Linked DNA regions of Homo sapiens. The protein of the gene in region 3 purifies or fractionates together with the protein of the main gene of each other region. This does not show direct contact. Each region holds a gene or a part of one and is shown on either strand. Other genes may lie near its edges.

The links. Proteins that work in one complex are often made in the same cells at the same time.
Region 1: the proteins of ARRDC3 (region 3) and HECW2 purify together in Homo sapiens (co-immunoprecipitation; 3 studies listed by BioGRID and IntAct, with this or other methods). This does not show direct contact.
Region 2: the proteins of ARRDC3 (region 3) and CUEDC1 purify together in Homo sapiens (co-immunoprecipitation; 3 studies listed by BioGRID and IntAct, with this or other methods). This does not show direct contact.

Annotation. Positions count from the first base shown.
Region 1 is NC_000002.12:196,317,544-196,324,569, forward strand, and holds part of HECW2 (E3 ubiquitin-protein ligase HECW2), read right to left. Parts: intron 5,078-7,026; coding exon 4,935-5,077; intron 2,897-4,934; coding exon 2,796-2,896; intron 2,383-2,795; coding exon of another isoform or gene 2,362-2,382; coding exon 1,009-2,361; intron 1-1,008. UniProt on the Homo sapiens protein: E3 ubiquitin-protein ligase that mediates ubiquitination of TP73. Acts to stabilize TP73 and enhance activation of transcription by TP73. Involved in the regulation of mitotic metaphase/anaphase transition.
Region 2 is NC_000017.11:57,868,402-57,875,427, forward strand, and holds part of CUEDC1 (CUE domain-containing protein 1), read right to left. Parts: intron 5,317-7,026; coding exon 5,190-5,316; intron 4,455-5,189; coding exon 4,262-4,454; intron 2,969-4,261; coding exon 2,885-2,968; intron 793-2,884; coding exon 721-792; intron 1-720.
Region 3 is NC_000005.10:91,380,312-91,387,394, forward strand, and holds the start of ARRDC3 (arrestin domain-containing protein 3), read right to left. Parts: upstream 3,007-7,083; 5' UTR 2,782-3,006; coding exon 2,502-2,781; intron 614-2,501; exon of another isoform or gene 36-613; intron 1-35. UniProt on the Homo sapiens protein: Adapter protein that plays a role in regulating cell-surface expression of adrenergic receptors and probably also other G protein-coupled receptors.

The DNA.
Region 1 (7,026 bases), on a different chromosome or scaffold from region 3:
GAGGGCTTCCTGAAGAAATGTCCTCTGCATGTATCCCCCGCTCCTGCAGCTTCCCCTGCCTCATCCCTCACCCATAACGGCCTCTGTCCTGGTCATGCGCTAATGCTTTAGGGTCACATGGTGGCTACAATATAATGAAGGAAACAAAATTTAAAAAAAAAAAGGAGGAGGAAGAAAAGAAGGGGATCATGTAGGTAGAAAAATACATTACAGAAAAAGAAAATCATTCCTATTTCTGAGTTATGCCAGCCAGACATATGAAATTGCTCTTTGATTTTTAATGCATCCTTACAGGGCATATTAAAGGAATCATTCTAGAGAGCTGCATTCACTGAGCGTAATACAAATTTCAGGTGTAAATTTGTGTCCTTGGATACAAAAACAGCTTATTCTCCAAGTCAGAAGACATCACCTAACTTAGTTGACATTCCTAAATTGTAGAAGACAAAAACACTACCTTTGATGCATAGCATACATTAATCTTCCACTGTGAAATTTTAGAAAGGAAGAGTGGCTAGGTGTTTCTCATAACCTTTGCAGATTACACTAAGGTTGAAGCTGCCAGCCTGTTTGGTTGTGTATCTACAAACCCCGGTTCCAATAGAGACCCATTATTTAAGTTTGAAGATTGCTGTTTAACAGGCCTGTTACTTCAGCAGCAGAAGAGCCATTTTTTAAAAGAGCACTGAATTTGAACTCAAGCCCATCTGGATGCAAACCATGCTGCCTTCTTCCTAGCTATGTGATTAAGTCCCAAGGTCTCCCCGCTCAGAAACAGGAGGCCTAATCTAGAGGAAGGGTTTCAGCTGCCCACTCATTTGTTACCTGTTTCCTTCTCTTCCTGGCCCTGTTTTCAATCTTGCCTCTCTTCTTGCCTGCTGAACCTCAAGGTGAGGAATTCAGGTCATATGTAACCTGCAGCCTTATTTACATTGAGGGGAAAACTACAGAACTTCTCTCTGCACAGCTACGCTCGAGCCAAGAGCCACAGTGGTGTCCATATCCTACCTCCAGTAGCGCCCTCCTCCTGGGCAGTTGCCCCTTCACAGGTGCCTTGGGCCTCCCCAGCACTGCCTTCTTCTTGCGGTGGGCTCTCGGCAGCAGCTGCAGCTCCCTCCAGGCTCCCCCTCCGCTGCCAGACCTCCCCCAGCTCCTCCTGGTCAGGTACAGTGGCCGATTCTGCCCCTGGCCCTTCATCCTCCCCACTGGGCACCTGTACCACAGGTAAAGAACCAGCAGTGCACACGGATTCCTGCGACCCTTCGGCAGGGCCACTGCTGGTGGGCTCTGCTGCACAGGCTCCGTCTTCCTCCTCCTGAGAAGAAAAGGCTGGGGTTTCAGGAAACCGTGCGCTCTCAAGAGAGGAGCACCGTGTGTCCACAGAGGACAGCTGCGTGGTCACACTCTCATTGCAGGAGCTGTCAGCGCATTCCAGGTCACTCTCTCCCTCAGGCCTGGTGCTGGCTTCGCTCACACTCTCTGTCCTGGCAGGATCACTGGGTTCTGTTTCAGAGGACACCTGGGAAGGCTCAGAGCCCTGATCGAGAGACTCGGTCTCACTGACGGCTCTTCGGCTTCCTCCTGATGCATCGGAAGTCCCTGTGTCTGCGCCACTTGTGGGCTGATCTACCTCTTGAGAGCCACACAGTTCAGCACTGCCCTGGTCAGCACTGGGTTGAGGCTCTGGGCCGCCTTCACCTTCCTCTGGGGCTGGGCCTGCAGGTAAGGAGCTCTCTGCAAGCTCTGGAAGATTTTCTGGCTTATCCTCAAAGGAAGCAGCTTCGTGTGTGGAGGCTTCCTCATTCTCAACAGGGTTGTCCTCCAGCTTTGTCTGAGATGTCAGGCTTCCATCATCAGCTCTGGATGCCCTGCTAAACATGATCAGGCCTCCCTCCTCCTCCAAGGAAGATGGGTAACCCAGGTCTTGCTGGAACTCGTGATCTTCTTCATCTGAATCAATATGAAGCATGGCATTGAGTCTTGTGTCAGTGGGAAAACTACTCCTCAGTTTCGGAGAGGCACCCATGGACCTCTCAGAGCAGGTCGCTGTCCCCGGCCTGGAGTGGCCATTGTGTTCGATAGCATCTAAGTAATCATTGAGTGAATCCTGACGTCCTCTGGGAGGTGAGGTCCTTGAAGACGTAGAGGTTAATTCCTCTGTGTCTATTTCCAGAGTGGAGCTAGTCCTGAATGAATGCTTGGGGGTTCCATCGGCAGCACTGTCCTCAGAAACTGGCCCATTAGAGCACACCTGGCTGTCGTGATGGCTCCCTGGCATGTCCTCGTCATCGGAAGGGCTACCTAAGTCTCCATTCACAGAATTGACTCCAAGTATTGTGCCAACAGCTTCTGGAGAGGCATCTGAATGAGAAAACAGCATTTCTAAAAAATTAACCAGAAATAATAAGTGAACGTTTTATGACTTATTTGCTTTGCCACCAATAAGTTCAAAGAAATCAGTCATTCTGAGGGCTTTCTACTGACTTGCTAAGATTCACCACTCACTACTAAATGAGGAGACTGCTAGTCAGCTTGGCACAGGAGCTATGTATGTTAGCATGGCTGAAAACTCTACAGCCCAGTTTCAAAATGCAGGCATCAATCTAAGAGACATTTTTGGGCAAACAGCCTTTCCTACTTGCTTAGAAAATTTCAGCAGGTAATTATTTGACAGCTATTTTACTTTCAAAACAGAACATGAATTCAATTCTGTTCAGAAGCAAACTGACAATCGAGTTAGGTTTAACAAGTTTTTCCTATAGCAATGTATTCATACAGATATATTTATATCTCACCTTCATGAACAGAAGACGTAACCTCCACTTTAAACTGGAGGTACCCACTCACGTGGTCAGCTGGGAGCCTTCTGCCAAGGTTGTAGCTGAGCATTTGATCACTGCAAGAAGAGAAATGCTTCTTTCATCCTGACTACGCTGGAGTCAGCCTTCGCCGTCTTTCCACAGGCCACCCACCAAATCCCTCCTATCTCTCTTAAAACTTTCAGACTCACAAGAACATTAAAGGCTCAAAGCCCATTATAGTCCAATGTAATATTATTCATTCATACAAATGGAACACTTATAAACCCGGAGATAAAAGGAAATGTTGCCATAAGAAAAATTATTATTACGAGCACAAGACATCATATGCTATGTGATATTTTTAAGGACACTGATTCACTCTCTCACTTTTAAGGGTGACCAGGAAAAGGACATTTTGAAGGTCATAAAGGAGTTGTGAAAGGCCTCAAGTTTTAGGGGTTTTTTGACTCGGGTGTAAAAGGGGAGAGAGCCTGGTTCCTCGGCATTTAGCACAACAGAAAGCTGGTTCTAAAAGGACACTCACAGCTAAGGATTATCACCCAACATGGCACGTAGGGCACTGTGCTATGCCCTGAAGAACAGGAGCTGGGACTTAGGGGAGAGAAGCACAAGAACACAAGAATGAAAGCGCCCTTCATAGCCAAGACAGCAGCCCTGGCTGTGTGATGGGGAGAGGACCGCTAAGCTCTCCTTCCTCACCTGTAGAGTAAGGAGGCTGGAGCTGCTGGCCTTCCCTGCTGGGAAGCCTGGCCTATCACTGATTCTCAGGGTGCCTTGTAAGCAGTGCTGATGGGATGGTTGGCAAAGCCAGATGTGCCCCTGTGGTGGGGTCATATCCCAGATCTGGAAGCAGGTTTAGTTTTTGCCTTGCCTGGGCCCCGGGCTTGGACTGTCTGCCTCCTGAAGGATGGAGTTTTCCATCTGTTTCAAGTCTGTTTCTTTATCAAAGTCAAATGCAGTCATTTCATTTTCCTGCACACAAGTAACAATCTTATTCTGAATTAAATGACTTATTCTTTTTCTCTCTTTTTTTTTTTTTTGAGACAGAGTCTCGCTCTGTTGCCCGGGTTGCCTAGGTTGGAGTGTAGTGGTGCAATGTTGGCTCACTGCAACCTCCACCTCCCGGGTTCAAGCAATTCTCCCAGCTTCAGCCTCCCAAGTAGCTGGGATTATAGGTGCCCGCCACCACACTCAGCTAATTTTTTTGTATTTTTAGTAGAGACAGGGTTTCACTATGTTGGCCAGGCTGGTCTCGAACTCCTGACCTCGGGTGATCTGCCCACCTCGTCCGCTCAAAGTGCTGGGATTACAGGAATGAGCTGCCGTGCCCGGCCAACTTATTCTTAATTAAGGAAAATCATCAAAAGGATAGTGCCAAATCACTCCACCTCTGCCCTCTAATGGCTATTTCAGAAGGAAGATACAATGTTTCTTCTATCTACTCTTTGCTCCACTGTACAGTTTAGAGCCTCTAGTCAGCTATGCATTATTAATTTGCATAACTTGTTTTTGGTCTTCTCTATCTCCTCAGTATGACTTACTACTTTACTCACAACTTACAAAAAGCTCACAAAAAGAAAATAGACATTAATTACACATTAAATTTTAAGAGAATGTCAATGAATAAATTTTAGTTGCTTGAATGAATGTATATGTCTAGGAGCTTTATTATAACACTTCTTCAAGTCTAGGTCTCGTTTTAAATGGCTCCAAGACAAGATTGTTTCCGTTTTTCAAGAGTAACAAGTTCTCTGGATGGAATTATTTAGGATAAGGTAGGCATCAACCTGATCCAAGAATTCTGCCCCAGGGAGAAGTTTTTATAAAAAGCTCCAATATACTGAGAGACAATCAAACACTATGAGATTTGACACTGAAATATTAACAGTGGGTACATCTTGGAAAAGATAAAGACGCAAAAAACATATATAATTAAAATAAACTACTTTTTTGTCAAGTACATTTTAATAAGTGTAAGGACACTTTTATTTTTAAAAGAATTGTGTTACTACTTCTTATCAGTATGAAAAGTCCTAGGACTACCAAGTTTCATGTCATTTTTTCCTATATGAACTAATCTCAACAAGATCCCCAAAGGTAAGGGCTGATTACCCGATGGCTTGTCGCTCCAGCAGCCTCTGGACTGGAATGGTTAGTTTCCCCAGAAAACGCTTGATGATGGGACGGCTCTTGGCAAATTTGTCTTTAATTTCAATTTCTAAGACATCAGTAAGAAGTGCAAAAAAGGAATATTTCTGAAAACACAAACAGATAACATGCTGGTTTAAAAGAAAGACAAATATGATACTATATCATTTTATTTGTATAGGAAATGGTATCTCTTAAATTCTAACAACATACAGAGTTCCACATAGCTAGAAATAGCTGCAGCTATTGTCAATCCTTTATTCACTCAGAATGATTAGCATTCACCATGATTAAAAAGCAGCAGTCAAGGATCTGTATGACAAAAGAAGCCCTCTCAGTCAATCATGCAGCCCTTCCTAGTTTCACAGTTTTAGGAGATGTTATCAAATATTAAGTTATGCACAATGCAATTTTAGTACTCCCTACATTTATTGTATCTCAATTCTTTGATATTTAATATCTTGTTATAGAATGGATTAGAATTAACTAGTATATTTGATTGACAATTTGAATTCCTAATCTCATGAAATTCTGAAGTTGCAAAACATAGTTGAAAATACTCCTCCACTTAGTGGTTAAAATAGGAACATCTGCAGAATACTGTGGTTTCCCTGATAAATGTTAAAAGAATGTTTAAATGGAATTTTTCCTTAAGTTTAAAAGGCATACAGGGTCATTTCTTCTGGGACAGAAAAATAAAAGTATGAGGTTAAGATAGCTTTTGTTGTTTTCATTTTAAGAATGCCACTGGGGAAATTTGGATCGGACATTAATAAGGATATAAAATAAATATGAAGAGCTTTACTCACAGAGACTTTTACATATATTATCTTCACTTTATCTTTACAACGATGTAACTTTCTTTTTGAAGATGAGAATCTCAGGATAAGTAAATGATGGTGCCAGGAATCTAACCTAAATTATTTCACTGCTTCCCTGACAGTATCCATGCAACTATAGTGATGTGAATAGTGTTAGCCAACTTTTCACTTAGGTGCCTCTAGGTTTATCTAGTCATAACAATTAAGGTTTTCCAAAGGGCCAAGCAATTTGGCAGTCTGCTTAATGGAAAAAAGTACTTGCTTAGAATAAAAAAGCCGAGTTTAATCCCCACTTCTGTCTCTGAATAGCTAGTCCCATAAACACTTTAAGCTTCAATTTCTTAATCACCAAAATGAAGACATAATAATCTCATCCTTCGTGCCTCCCTTTCAGGCTTGCACTGGTGACATGGTCAAAAACTTTGCAAATTTAAAATGTTAGGAAAATAGTTACTGCTTGTTTCATTATCATATCTATTATGTGCTTTCTAGAATCATATTGAGATATATTTTTATTTCTTCTAGGCTTTGAAATGCATTAGACTAAGTGGCATGCCCTTAAGAGTTTTTTTTGTTTTTTGTTTGTTTTTTTTTTTTTTTTTTACCATGATGAGATCATTAGTAGTTTCTTAAACCAAGTGTAAGAATACAAGCAATATTCAATATCTAAAACCATAGGAACTGCCCAGGAGAAATGCCTTGCTGTGTTGGCAAGTCTCAGATAACTATATCTTTTCTGCAATCGGTTTTAGATCCCCTGATATACCTCTCTCCAATTAAATATTTCTACAATATTGTTAGAACATATTGTTGTCATTAAATATTTAGGGTATGATCTAATTAACTGTGTAACTCCTATGCCAGCCCAGAAAGATTTTCACACTAGTTATGTAAAACATGCCTCAGATCTCCAAGAAATGGAGGGAGAGCTCAAGCTTTGCTCACTAGATAAGAAGTGTCTATTTGTTCATTCTTTGACTTTCCGTAGTTCAAATGAGAAAACCCTTTGCTTGATTTCACTGATATGGTGCACTAAGATGACTGGTAGCATACTGTAGCTGTGAGGAAGTCTAAAATACCATCAACACAATCTGGCTTCACTCAGGATGATGACTCCTTGAATGGCTCATCTAATTAACAAAACTCTAGAAATTCATAAAACATTTGCCAAAGCCCGCAGAGAGAGAAATTCCTTTAATTTGTACTAAATGTATGCTACAACAAAATATCAAAAT
Region 2 (7,026 bases), on a different chromosome or scaffold from region 3:
CGCAGACCCCTGAGGACGCCACCCCAGGAGCAAGAGGCTACATCCTGGGTCAGCCTGCAGGGGCAGCACAGGACACCCTGAGCCAGGCCCAGGGACCGCAGGCGGCTCAAGATCCAAGTATTCCCTCCCCAGCTGCAACACACTGCAACGCATCTTGGCTCGCTTTCCCGCCGCCACCGCCTTCCCGCCCCTCCCCTAGCCACCTCCAAAGTTGGTTCTGGGATTTCCATGACTAATCCGAGATTTTCCTTGAAATGGAGCCTGAAAGGATCGCAGCCTCATTCACACATGGCTGTGGGTCTGTGTGGCGGGGAGGTGAGGGGGAGGGAAGGGGGCATTCAAGGCTGGTAGGACTTTGTGGAAAGAGGTCCCCCACCCCCACAGAGGCTTAGCAAGGGCCTCTCTGTGCAGTCAGCTCCGGCCAAGCCTCCTCGAGCCACAGAGAACGTGAACATGAGGATTGCGGTGAGGGCATGTGTGGCACGTTATTTTTCTGCAGACATCTGGCTCAAGAGGATTTAAAACTTAATTTGTATCTAGACTCAGCTGTAGAGGGAAGTGAGGCAGGAAGGCTGAGGGAGCCAGCCTGCGATGAAAATGTCACTGGTTCACCAAGAGTCAGCTGCATTACATGTGCTGAGGGGCTCCCTCACTCCTGGGAGGCCACAGGGCCTGTCTCAGAAAAGCTGGGGAGGGAAGCGGGGCCTGAGTGGGACTCACACTTTCCCATGTGTTTCAGCTTGTCCCTGAATAAGGCATCTTCAGACACAGCGGGGTTGGCGTCGCCAGTTCCTGGAAGGAGACACCTGCTGAAGGCCGGCCACCGTGGCCAGCCATGGCCGCTGTCCCAGCCCTACCCACCCATCTGAGGACAAATGCAAAGAAAGAGCAGGCTTCTTCCCTGGCCAGAAGGGAGTTTAAAGCAAGGAGGATGTGGAGTTCCAGGAGCTCCTCTTTCCCCTTGTGGACTTTGTTTCCTCCTCTGTAAAAATGGGGAGGGTTCAGCGGTCTACTGTGTGTGCAGACAGCCAGCTCGTGTGTGCTCCCAACTGTCCACGCCTCTGACCAACTCCATGTTTCATGACATCACCTTGGTAGCTTGGGAGTATTTCCACCATGGAGGTCACCAAGCACTACATATCAGGCTCCCGCTGCACCCAGAGTTGGCTGTGAAACATTCACCAGCACACCAGGGGCCTCCTGCACCCCGACATTCATGTGACAGTCAAATGAGGTGCTGGCTCAGAGCCGGCATTCACCTGTAGCAAGTCCCTTGTCCTTCCTGCCAGGTAAGCCCATCCATTGCTCCCTCCCAGCCACAGGGTTTCTGGCTATTAGACAATGAGTAGGAATAGAATGGGACTAGTCCTGGAGTCAGAACCCCACCGGCCACCCAGAGTCTCCCGGGCTCGCTCAGCATCCACTTGGGTTTTTTGCTGGTTTCTGAAGCCCCTGCTCTCTGTCCTGCAACTTGGTTAATCCCCAGTCACCTTGCCTGCTAAGTCCCCTTTGAGTCATTCTGATCCATCTCAGCAGCCCCGGTATCTCTAGTTAATTCAGGATCAAGGACAAGAGGCTCCTGCTTAAAACTCCCAGCTGCACATCTGCTGAGCCCTAAGCTCCCAGCCTGCTGCTTATGAGTCAGTTCCACAGGATTTTCTCCCTTCAAGCTGGGATCAGCTCAGCTCCCCATCCCTCTGCTCCTCCACCCCCAACTCCACTGCATGATGCAAGGTCTATTCCAGGCAAGAGCCCTTCTCCGAGGTGGGCAGCTTGTGTACATGTGGGGCAGGGGGCACTGACTGATGAGGGGCCACTGTTCGCACACAGGCACCAGGTCATCGTTCCCAGCTGTGGCTCAACCCAGTAGTCTGCGCATCCCAGGAGCACTGCAGCCCCCTCACCCCTATCCAACCCTCTTTCAGCCATCAGAGCTTCTGAGCAGAAGGGCCTGGCCCTCTTTACAGGCAATTCTTACTTCCCACCACCTTGTACACAAAGCTAGAAATTCCTCTTCCTCCAACACCTAGGGCAAGGCCCAACAGATGGCAGATATTCTCCAGCTATGTCATGAATGAATGAGTAAACTCCCCAGATTAATCCTGCCCTCCTTTTTTCCCATGCATTTGCTAAAATCAGTAAGTCCTCAGCTTTGCTAGTTTGTTCTACCTGTTTTCTGGGCATTTCTCCTTACAAGACCATAAGCTTCCCCAGGACACAGACCAAGACTTATGAGTCTCTGAGCCCCACCACGGGGCATTTTGGGGTCCTTTTCTTCTTTTTTTTTTTTTTGGAGACAGGGTCTCACTCTGTCACTCAAGCTGGAGTGCAGTGGCATAATCACAGCTCACTGCAGCCTCAACCTCCTGGGCTCAAGTGATCCTCCCACCTCAGCCTCCTGAGTAGCTGGGACTAGAAGCACAGGCCAATATGCCCAGCTAATTTTTAGTACTTTTTTGGTAGAGATAGGGGGGTCTCATTTTGTTGCCCAGGCTGGTCTTGAACTCTTGGGCTGAAGCAATCCACTCTCCTCGGCCTCTCAAAGTGTTGGGATTATAGGCGTGAGCCACCGCACCTGGCCATGTGTCATTGACTAGCCTACACTCGAGGCATAGGTTGAGAGTTCAGCCAGCCTATGTTACTTGAACACAACTGTGGGCTCTGAAGCCCAGCAGTGGCTGGATTGGAAAGACCCCAGAGCTGCTAAATGGACTGGATATGGAGATGGGGGCAGAAGCAGCCCCGCCAGCCTGCTGAGGAGGCCCAGGCCCCCTCCCACAATCTGTTTTTTCACCCTCCTCTCAAACTCCAAATATGCAAAGCAAAGTTGGGTGTGAGCTCCCCACTATGCCTCTAGGTTTTCTTCCCCAGAAGGCAAAGTTACCTGGGACAGGAGAGGAAAAGCCAAAGTCGTTTCCGACAGCCACGCTGCTGGATTTAGATTTCTGGGATTCGTATTTCAATCGATCTGGAAAAGGACCACATTCACAGGTCAGGGAGGTTAGCTCCTGGGCTCCCAGGGGCAGGCTGGGCTGGGACACGGTAGTTTGCTAGAGGCTAAGTCCCCAGAATCACACATGAGCACACACGGGCACCCAAAATATGAGTGCACACATCTACCAGCTCTCAAAGAACCAGCAGTAAAAGAAACTACCGCCTGACAGCCATCTCAAATGTCAGAATTAAAAGGACTCAGAGAGACTGTAGAGTCCAAACCCCCTCATTTAAAAAGAAAGGCACGGCCAGGGATGGTGGCTCATGCCTGTAATTCCAGCACACTGGAAGGCTAAGGCAGGCAGATCACCTGAGGTCAGGAGTTCGAGACCAGCCTGGCCAACATGGTGAAACCCCGTCTCTACTAAAAATACAAAAATCAGCCAGGTGCGGTGGCGTGCGCCTATAATCCCAGCTACTTGAAAAACTGAGGCAGGAGAAACACTTGAACCTGGGAGGCGGAGGTTGCAGTGAGCCGAGATTGAGCCACTGCACTTCAGCCTGGGTGACAAGAGCGAGACTATGTCTCAAAAAATAAAAAATAAACGGAAAAGCCTTGAGGCTTCTAGCACCTTTGCTGCAGAGCTGGGGCTAACCTTGGGCCTCAGCCCAGCCTTCTCCCTCCACAACTTGCTCCTCCCCCACCAACACACCATCAGTTACACACACAAGCTCTCACGCTGTGGCCGTCACAGGGACAGAGCTCCACAGCCCTCTCGTCTCCTCTACCCCAAACGCACTCCCACCCTGCAGGGGAAAGGCAGCCAGGCTAGGGAGCAGGGTCTCCAACCCAGAGACAACCCAAATACCTGCAAAGTTCCAGAGCCCCTGCTCTAAAGTCTTCCACTCAAGAGCCTCCCCCGCCCTGGCCTTCATGAACCCAGTCGTTCTGTTTCCGGAGCTCCAGACACATCACGCCTGCCTTGGGGCTGGGGCTCTGTGAGGAGGGGCAGTGCTCTTCTCCCTGCTGCCTTGTGCCAAGGCCAGTGCCTGGCACAGAGCAGGTGTGCAAAGGGAAGAAGGCCTAAGAGTGCACATCCTTCTTCCTCTGAGTCCCGAGGGAGAAAGGGGTGGGCTAGTGACCCAGGTCCCCATAGGCAGAATTCTGAGGCTCCCATGGGATAACTTGGTGGGAGTCATGCCTCAATAGGACAGAAAGCACCTGGCCCCCTCAGCCCCCAGCTCAGTGTTTTCCTGAGCCCCAAGGCTAAAGCCAGCATCACCTCCCTTCTTCAGCCAGGGAGAAGTGGCTGCAGGCGCTGCCCACCTCTCTCCAGAGCGAGGAGGAAGTCGCGGTTCCGTTGCAGCTCCTTCATGAACTCCTCGTTCTGCAGGAAAAGCGCGATCCTCTCGTCCTCCAGGTACTGCTTCCAGCGGCTCTCCTGGTCTCCGGGCCCTGGCCCAGCCATGGCAGGTGGACATCCCTCTCCACTCCCAGGCTTGGGGCCCCCAGCGTTACCCTGAGGAGGGAAGCGAGCATGTTGAATGTGTACACACAAGGGTACATGTTGCACAAACGTCCACATCCCTCTGGTTGCACACATGCCCTGTCCAACATCCTCCAGCCCTCACCTGAGGCTCACACCTCCTAATGGAACCTGGTTGCGAGCCAAAATCCAACGGACAGGTCAGAGCCATTGCTGCAGGGGACACAGCAGTAGCCTAAAAACTATTTTTCCCCCACGCCACAGACCACCTCATACCTTCATCTACAACCTGAACAGTCCTGAAAACAAATCTGCAGACTGTGGAACAGCCTATACGTCAATTCCCAAACTCAACCCTCTCCCTGCACCAGCAGCCTCAGGGTGGACCTGCCCCGCTGTGGGGCACCTTGGGGCATGCCAACATCTAGCAAGAAGCAGCCTCTGGCCCTTTCCCAAGGGAGGAAGGGGGGTGCTCTGGCCCTCCACCATTGGCCACCCCATGCCCGCCTCTCTCCAGCCTGAGGTGACTGCTGCAGCAGACAGCCTCCTTAGGCTGTCACCTTCCCTGGATAGAACAGGAAACCTCCAGGCCCAGGCAGGAAGTGAGGCTTTCAGTTCAGCATTCCTGCCCTACGAACCCAGGGCAACAGAAATAGCTCAGCCTGGGTTTAAACATCAGGAAGTAAAACTGGCTGGCACAAATTGTGTGGGCAAAGAGAGATGCTGGACAAGCAGGTGGGAGTGGAAGGCGGGGGCGGCCCCTGTTACCTGTATGCTGTCCAGCTGCTGGGGCAGGATGCGGAGAAAGTCATCCGGAAGGTTGCCCAGCAGTGGTGGGTTCCAGTTCCGATAGCGTCTCTGGCTTGTAGGGGCTCCAGAGCCCAGCGCGTCGATACTAGGGGATGGCAGGTGACAGGGAAGAGGAAGTCATTAAGCCCAACCCCAGGTCTCCTGGCCCCATCACACCAGGTCCTCAGGCAGGTCGGATCCTGCTCAGAGATTCCCATGGCCTCCACTGCCTCCAGAACAAAGGCCCGTCACTCTGTCTCATCACTGGAGATGTCTCCACCAGCCTCAGCGAACTCCCCAGCCATTCATGCTCTCCAGTCACTCAGTGCCCTTCCAGGTCTCTGGACCTACAGAGCTGTCTGTCCACGGTGCACATGTGGAACTCTGTGGATTTAGCCATAGATGTTTACAAATGTCCCCTAAAGACAGCAGGGATCGCATCCTTTCATGCTTCTATCCTAGCACCTACACAGTGCCAGGCTCATGGTGCTGAGTGACAGGTATGGTCCAAAGGAACAGACACATAAGCCACCAACAGCACAGCCTGCTGCATGCTGGTTTGCTGAGGAAGGGGCATATGGGGACGCCAGGATCCCTACAGAGGGTAAAGCAGATCTGAGCTCCAGTTCTGGCTCAACCACCAGCCGGCAGGGTAGTCTTAGGTGGGCCCCTGTTCCCTCTAGGGCTCGGTTTCCTTATCTAGAAACTGCTGCCTCCCTGCCCAGGTGCTGGGGAGCCCCTCAGGAGGCCGTGTCCTGAGCAATGTTCTGAAAACGTGCGTGGAGATGTGAGTGTGGAAGGGATCTCGCTCTCAGGGTGCTCTGGGGCCGCTCTTTCCAGGCCCGTTGTGTGTGTGGCAGGAGCTCTGTGCCATGGCAGAGCCAACAGCTGGGCAAGGCAGTAGAGGAAGAGGGGGTGGCACACACCCTCCCTGACCCCCAGGCTCCCGCCCTACCGCCCTGGGCCTGAGGGCAGCTCGGAGCCCGGCCAGGAGGTCCCCACAGCTCCATGGCAGCCTGCAGCGTGGCAACCGCAGGACACGTGTTCCGCTGAATCAGGAAAACGGCACACTGAGAAGGCAGCCGAGGGCCGGGCGGTGGGGGCTGCTCTAGCTCTCGGGCCTGGCTTTGATTTGGTCTTCAGCTCTAGGAATCCCGCCCGCCCCCTCACTGGAGGGGAGCTTTTCCGGGCTGCCGCTGACTATGGAAATAACTTCCTTTCCTTTTCTATTTCGGGCGGGTGGCCGGCGGCGGGGGCGAGGGGAAGGGGCGGGGGCGGCAGCAGAAGGGATAACCAGCTGCTAAGTGCCTGGTGGGAGCTCAGCTCTTGCAGACTGGAGCCAAGGGAACCCCAGCACGCCTCGTCCACCCTCTCCCTGCACAGACACAGGGGGAGAGGGAATGGTCTGGAGAGCAGCTTGCATCACAACCCGGGACTCCCATTCCTAGGCCAAATTTTTTTCTACATCACTGCCACCTTCTGTCACTGTTGGAGGCTTCATTTTTCTCCAAAGGCCAGAGATGGGGAGAGAGGAAGCCTCATCTCTAAGGGACTCGCAGACCACCCCAGGCTACAGCAGGGAGGGACCCTCGCCAGGGGTATTACCAGTTCTTGAGGTCTCAGGGTCTTCATCTGGGACATGGGTGCCCACCCCCAATTTAACCACACCTCGGAGCCACCCAGGAAAGCAGTGGAGGGAGAACCTCAGAGGTGCACCTGGACCCCTCTAGCCATGAAGACTCCAAGTGGAGAAGGGCACAAGGTGGAGGAGGCCCCTGTTCTCAGCTGAGTTTCCTTGCTGCTAGGCCTGTGGTCC
Region 3 (7,083 bases):
GCCGGGGGGCGGGGCGAGCGAGCCGCGGCGCTTCCGCTTTACACGCCCCAGCCGGCGACCGGTTCCATCTGGCTCGGGCCACTCTGACACCTTTAGTTTCGGCAAGGGATATTGGGGTGGCGAAGGGGAGGCGGGGGCCCGAAGGCTTCGGAAAACGATGGGGGAGGGGGCAGAGGATACCCGTCGAAGCCCCCCCCTCCCCCAACATTTCGATATTGGAATCACTTTCCTTCTTCCTCGGGCCAGCCTTTGCTCTGTCCCCTCAGGTCAACTCAAGGTAGACAGTGTGGCGACTGGAGAGGTCGGGGAACAAGCTTTGTTTCAGCTAAGGGGAAAACAAGCGTTCACAGGAGTCCCCTGACACCTCCCACTCGGAAGATAGCTAACGGGGGTCCTGCCAACCCTTCCCATCCAACTTCCATCTGAAAAGGATTTTCTGCTAAAGTTGGGTCCATGGCCATCCAGCACCTGTAAGGCCGGCAGGAGCGTCTGCCCTCTACTCAGTTAAAGCCTGAAGTCGTTTCCTTTCGATGGCCCTTAGGAGGCCCAAAAGAGGGGCGACAGAACATGATGTTGACACGGGCTGGGCGCCCCCAGAAGCCCGGGAACAAACGTGAGTACGGGCTGGGTGGGGGTCGCTCTGGAGGAACCTTTACCGGCGCACGCCGGTTTCCTAGCCTCGCCCCAGCCGCGGCGCGAGCTCACTCTCCCCACCCGCCCGCGCCCAATCCAATCAGCGCCTGCCATCGCCTTAGCAACAGGCTAACAAACCTGGCTCCGCCTATCCCGGGCGCCCGGGGCGGGGTCTCAGTTACCAGGCTAGTTTGAGAGCTCCCAGTTTCAAGTCATTGAAACTATTCCAGACTGAGCTCGTCTACGCGTTGCAGGGTTTGGGGGGCATTTTGTTGGGGGTGCAGGGCATTTAGTTTTCTTTACCACGAAATCATGGTGCAACTAATGAAATTATATTTGTCCTCACATCTCGTTGTTCTACTTTTCCCCACTGCAAGTCTTAACCCCTTGAGGAAAAATCTGTTTTCTTTCATCCGTTTCATAAAAGGCTGCAATATTCAGAAAGGTACAAACACAAAGTCATCTATCTGCTTTTCAACAAATACCAAGGCTGTCATTAGGCATTTGCATCTCCTATCAGTGTTAACACTTGGAGAGATTAATTAGTTATTTCAGGATGCAAAGTACCTGTATCTAACTACGAAAATCCTGCTAAAGAACTGAGTTCACCTTAATAGTTTCAAAAATAATGCATTAATACTGTCCCTCAAAGCATCCTTCATTTCTCACTTGCCTTAGTCATCAGCACTTCTCCAGGATGTACGTTTTTAATATAAAAAATAAGGTAAAATATGTCTCTAATTTTTTTTCTGAAAAATCGCCAACATCTGAACTAAATACTGCATTAAAAAGGAGAGGCACAAAAATTACATAACCAGTTTTAACATTATATTCTTCTTGGGCTAGGAATTAAGTCATCGCCACCACCTGACGCGTGTAACCAATCTGCTGAGAGCAGAACAAGCGCCCCTCCTCACCACCCCCCAGAACTGGTCCGAAACAGGATTGAACCGCTTCTAACAAAGGGTGGAAACTTAGAAAAACAAGCCTAGAGTCTCCTATATTTCCACAATGTAACCATTTAAACAATAGATTGGAAATCTCAGGACTCCTTCTCCTTTTGACAACCCTTTATCTCTCTCTTCTAACCAAAAATCAAATCCAGTGTGCCCTATACTTTTCAATTCCATTTGACTGGCATGGGTTTCATTGAATGCACGTTCCAAAGTTAGACATGATGCTCGGAAAAGAAAATTACTGATCCTAAATGGCTTCTAAACCTGACTCGATACCTATCATAATGACAGATAGTCATTCCTTTAAAATAAGGAATGCTGGGTGTAAATTTTTAAAGGAATGGTAAAGAATAGAGAAAAAACACGTGGGGTGTTGATACCATATGTCAAAATAAGCCACAGAAATCTTTTATGAAAGAACAGTCATCAATTATTTAAAGTCTTTTGCATTCCAATATTAAAAATGAAACACACCCATTAAGTCTCTTAAAAATGTTATTACATTTCTTGATCGAAGTTCAGTTTTTACATCTTAGGTTGCAAGTAAAAGGGCAAAAATCTAAGACTGCAGCTTTTACCAATTCATTTGAAAATATATTAGTAAAACGACTGAATTGGATTCAAACAGAATTTATAAGTAAGGTGCAAATGGACTACAAGTGCGTGTGGCACAGACCGAGCCGGGTACAGAGGTAGCTGAATAAGTGTAGTTTGCAGTCACTTTGCAGATGCCTGCATGCATTACGGCTTAACACACGATGAACGTCAAGGAGAATCCAAACCTTCCAACTTTGCTAACCTTTCTCAAACTGCTTAGTTATGCTAGGAGTAGAATCACGTTAATTCAGAAAACTGAAAAGGTACGTTTCCAAAGAAAATGAGTCCAATGACTTATGAATAACAAAAACTTACCTCTTTCGTGCCCAATTAAGATGTCTTTATGGTTGAAATACTCTACTTCTTCAGTGTAATTCTGTGTATAGGCAGTATTGGAGCCGGCGTTTCTAGATTCAGTCCAGCGTACTTTCGCATGTCCTCTTGCATGAATTTTAAGAGATTTTACTCTGATTTCCCCAGTAACTTCTAAATTTACCCTTCCTGAGACGGTATCCCCACTAGAATACACAGGGACATTGCTGTCATTAAGACAGTCAAAGCTTATTGTCAAACTCTTCACCTTTCCCAGCACCATGTTTATAACAAAATCTATAAAAATATAATGTAAGACAAAAAAGTCAAGATCGCATATAAAATGTGATCTTCACTTAACACTGATCGATATTTTTGCCGTGCAAAATGCTTGCAGGCCGGATCAGTGATTCTCTACAAATAGTTCATTGAGATTTCTTAAAAAGTCAGGGCAGCAGAGGCTGCTGCTCCGCGCTCCCGCTCGTCTCAGTGGTCTCCTTACAAAGACGGGCGGCTAAAAGCTGCCAGCTCACTTTAAGAGCAGCTTTGTGAAAAACAACCCCAGTGCGCAGGCGCAGGCCGCGGCTGCTGTCCGCCCTCCCTGCGCGCCCCCTCCCGCGCCGCGCCGCGCCGCGCTCGCTCCCTTGCCCGCTCGCTCCCGGGTACAGTAGGTGTAGAGCTAGGGGAAGGAGATACTGGAGCTGCTGGCCGGCTGAACCTGACTTCTCTTCATTGTGGGCTCCTATTGGTAGGCAGGCTACCGTATACCCTCGACGTGCTATCTGGAGCCCGTTACCGAGCGCACTCTACTAGAAAGATAATGGCAGAGTGGGGTGCGAGGGTACAAGGGCTGGGTGGGGAGTTTGCAAAGCCAAGTTAGGATAAACTGCAGCGACCAGCCCGAAGCGTGCGTTACCGGCACTGCAGCGTTTTACCAACTGCCTGGATGGGAGGAGGAAAAAGTGATGTGTGAAGAGAGATGGGGGAAGGGAGAAACCGGTTGGGCAAGCGGCCGATTGTTGAGCATAATCTAACGAATTTCCAAAGAAAACGTAATAAAACCGGACAAGAAATATTGTTCATAGACAAGAGCATACTTTGCTTGGATTTTTTTTTTTTAAACCAGTACTTTGTAGGCAGGTTGGAAATGAACTCAGTCGAGGTCAAAGGAACCTTAATCCTTTGAAGAGCGAGGTAGAGAAGCAAGTACAATGTAATCAATAGGCTTTGCTGTCTCCTCAACTTCTTTCTCCTACATTGCTTAATTAGCACCGAAAAACAACCAAGTTGTTTCCAGGATGACACGGGTGGGGGCTGGGGGAAGCTTGATCACTTCCTCGAAGGAAGAAAAAGTCCTTTTAAGACACCACCTACGGCTAGATTTGCAGAGTAAGACATGATTACAACTCCTGTGTCCAGAGGAATAAGAATAGAGTTCGGCCTAAAAAAGTACTACCTTATAAAAGGCATATGACATAGTGGTTTAGCTGACATATTGTTTGCAACAGAATCGGAAAATCTTTGTTAGAAATTAGTGAAGCGCATAAAATTGTTTTTAAAAAGCATGATTTGGTATATAAATAGGGATTTAACTGTGTGAAGCTTTAATTTTCGGCCGAGAGCCTTGGACCATTTAACGTAGTAATTCTCATGATACATCTTAAATATAGGTACATTTCTCTTTTTATTGTGAATGTTTGGTAAAAAATAGCAGTGCTTTCGTCACATCACACTGGGATTCAGAGCATAACAGCATAAACTCATCTAGATTACTGGCAATCAACAGAACTGCCTTACAAGAGAAATGTAGAAAGAAAAAATATGAATCTGGTGCTCTCTCTATATATATATGTATGACCAAAAATACCTTGGAAGATTTTTGGCTGTCCGTGTCTAAACGTTTTAGATTCTTTTGCGTAGTGTATATGGATAGGTTGAGCCTATGAGTCACAATAAACTAAACTTATTGGTCTTGCTGTTTTATTTCAAAAGAAACTAAGCTTTTGGGGGTTGGATTTTAGTTGACAAGGCAATATCTTGGACTCAACAGCAATATATAAAGAGTATAAATATGCAAACTAGACAATTAATGAGCAGGCCATTTATTTCAGAGTTTAGATCGCTATGCATAAAATTATAAATTTGCATATTTAAGTGGGAAAAACAGTCTTATCTTTTCCCTACCTCTTGGTTGACACCTGGTGGAAATTCTAGGTAAAGTACCTGGGGCCTTGTACTAGCTTTGATTACAGATACTACTTGTGTTTTTTCTCCACCTAGTGGTAGAAGTGGTGAATTTCCTAGAATGACAGCTTTTCCTCAGCATAAGGTCAATGATATTTAATAAGCATTCGAAAACCACTGAGCAAGGAATGGATTTAAAAGTGTAGTCCATAATGAATACATAAATTCATTGCACATTTGTGTCTACATTTATGTTAAAAATTATTAAGGGTTAGTGAACAGCTGAATTCGGATTTTTTTAGTAAAATTTATTTAATTAGAATATAACTCATTTCAGAAAAAATAAGAATTAGCTATATAAATACACCAGAATTGCATTTAATAAAAAAGAAGTCTAAGAAATTTATTTGTAGTTTGGAAAATTGTTTTAAAATATTAAATGTTTCATTCCTGTCACTGTGTAGTACATTATTCTTTGTGTTTGAAGCTTTCAGGATCTTTTGAATAGTTGTCTTTATTATTTATTTTGCTATTTTTAAAATTTTCTTTTTACTGTGTCTTCTTAAATACTTAGGTAACTGGCAAATTTCCAAGAAATTCTTACCAGCTGCCATTTTCATTATATTTTTATTTTTTGAGATGGAGTCTCACTCTGTTGCCCAGGCTGGAGTGCAGTGGCACAATCTAGGCTCTCTGCGGCCTCTGCCTCCCGGGTTCAGGCGATTCTCCTGCCTTAGCCTCCGGAGCAGCTGGGATTACAGGCACGCACCACCACCTCTGGCTACTTTTTGTATTTTTAGTAGAGACAGGGTTTCACCATGTTGGCCAGGCTGGTCTTGAACTCCTAGCCTCAAGAGATCCACCCGCCTTGGCCTCCCAAAGTGCTGGGACTATAGACATGAGCCGCTTGCGCCTGGTCTCGCTTTATCTTTTCAATTCTTAAAAACAAAAACAAAAACAAAAACGCTTGGACCAAATTTTGAATGTTTTCTCTTGTCGCTTTCATAACTTCCCCCTTTCAGATTTTTTGTCTAAATAGCTACTCCTTAGACAGCTTGAAATGCTGTACTGTAGACATTATCTTGGGCTTCTCAGCTTGCTTCACTGGGCCATTATTGTATTTTGTATTATATTTAAACTATTCGTCTTTACCATCAAGGCTCTTTCCTACTTCTCCCCAGCCTACGTCTCATATGCCATCTCCTCCTACTCATCTGCTAACTCTCTATAATCCTGTCAAGTACATCTTCTGTCCCCTTTGTTAGCTTGTCTCACTGTTGCCAGTATGCAGTTACATGTGCTTTTGGTGCCCAGAATAACATCCCACTACTATGTTATCTCCTTTGCTTTTTTCTAATCCCTCCACTAGATGCAGTTGGCACTACTGAGTAAAATTCCAACTAGACTGAATAACTAGCTTCCCTTCCCCTTTCATTGCTTCTTCAGAGCTTAAGTAGGAATCTCTTTTTATATTAGCTTTTGAGTCAAATGGCTCTTTCACCTTAATATATTAAAGTTTGAACTCAATCTCAAGAACTCTATCAAAGACTGATAAATGATCATTGCTGTCAAGTTGTATGATATTGAGGAGATATGTTAAGATTACTGCCAAGTTTGGAGTTTTTTGCATATTATATCAACATGCTCAATATTTTTATTTTTAAAAAAAAAGGAAGCCATCTCAACTGGAAGTTTTGGTGTTTGGTTGAAAAAAAAAAAAACCTACCAGTAGTCAGAATCTGTTTCATAAAGAAAAATATGAAATCTATGCTTAATCTATTTTAACTAGCAGCTGATAGGCTCGAGTGCTATGGGACTAAGGGGGATTTTTTTCCTTTGGTCTTAATTCTGTATTTCAAGATTTTGTAACTCTGACTTAACTCTTTAATATCGTCACAGTGCAGCAAATTTGGCATGCAGACTGGACAGAAGACTTGCTGTATTATTAGCAAAATGAGTAGTATTTGTTTTTTAGCTTTGAGAGCTATTACAAACATAACGCATATTATGTTTGTTATGTTCTTCATACTTAATAGACTTTTAAATATGTTATGGATTTTGTGATGAAACTCACTATCAAATTTGGATTCTGATATCCTTCATTAATAAATAGTATAATTTGTGTTATGTGAACACCATTTAATCTGTTATATTTTATTTCTTGATTAAAAGAAAATCACCCATAATTCTACTGTCCGTCCATTCAGAGACACCACTGTTAACATTTTGGTGTATTTCCATCCAGATGTACAACTAAAGAAGAGCATTGCCAGTGAAGCTATGGCAGTGCATATTATCATGTAGAAGATGAGTTGGTAAAGTTTATTCATCTAAGCTCAAATGGCATCTGGTCTACAGAAAGAATTAGGAATGCTAAATTTCTTTTCTGAACTACTTTATA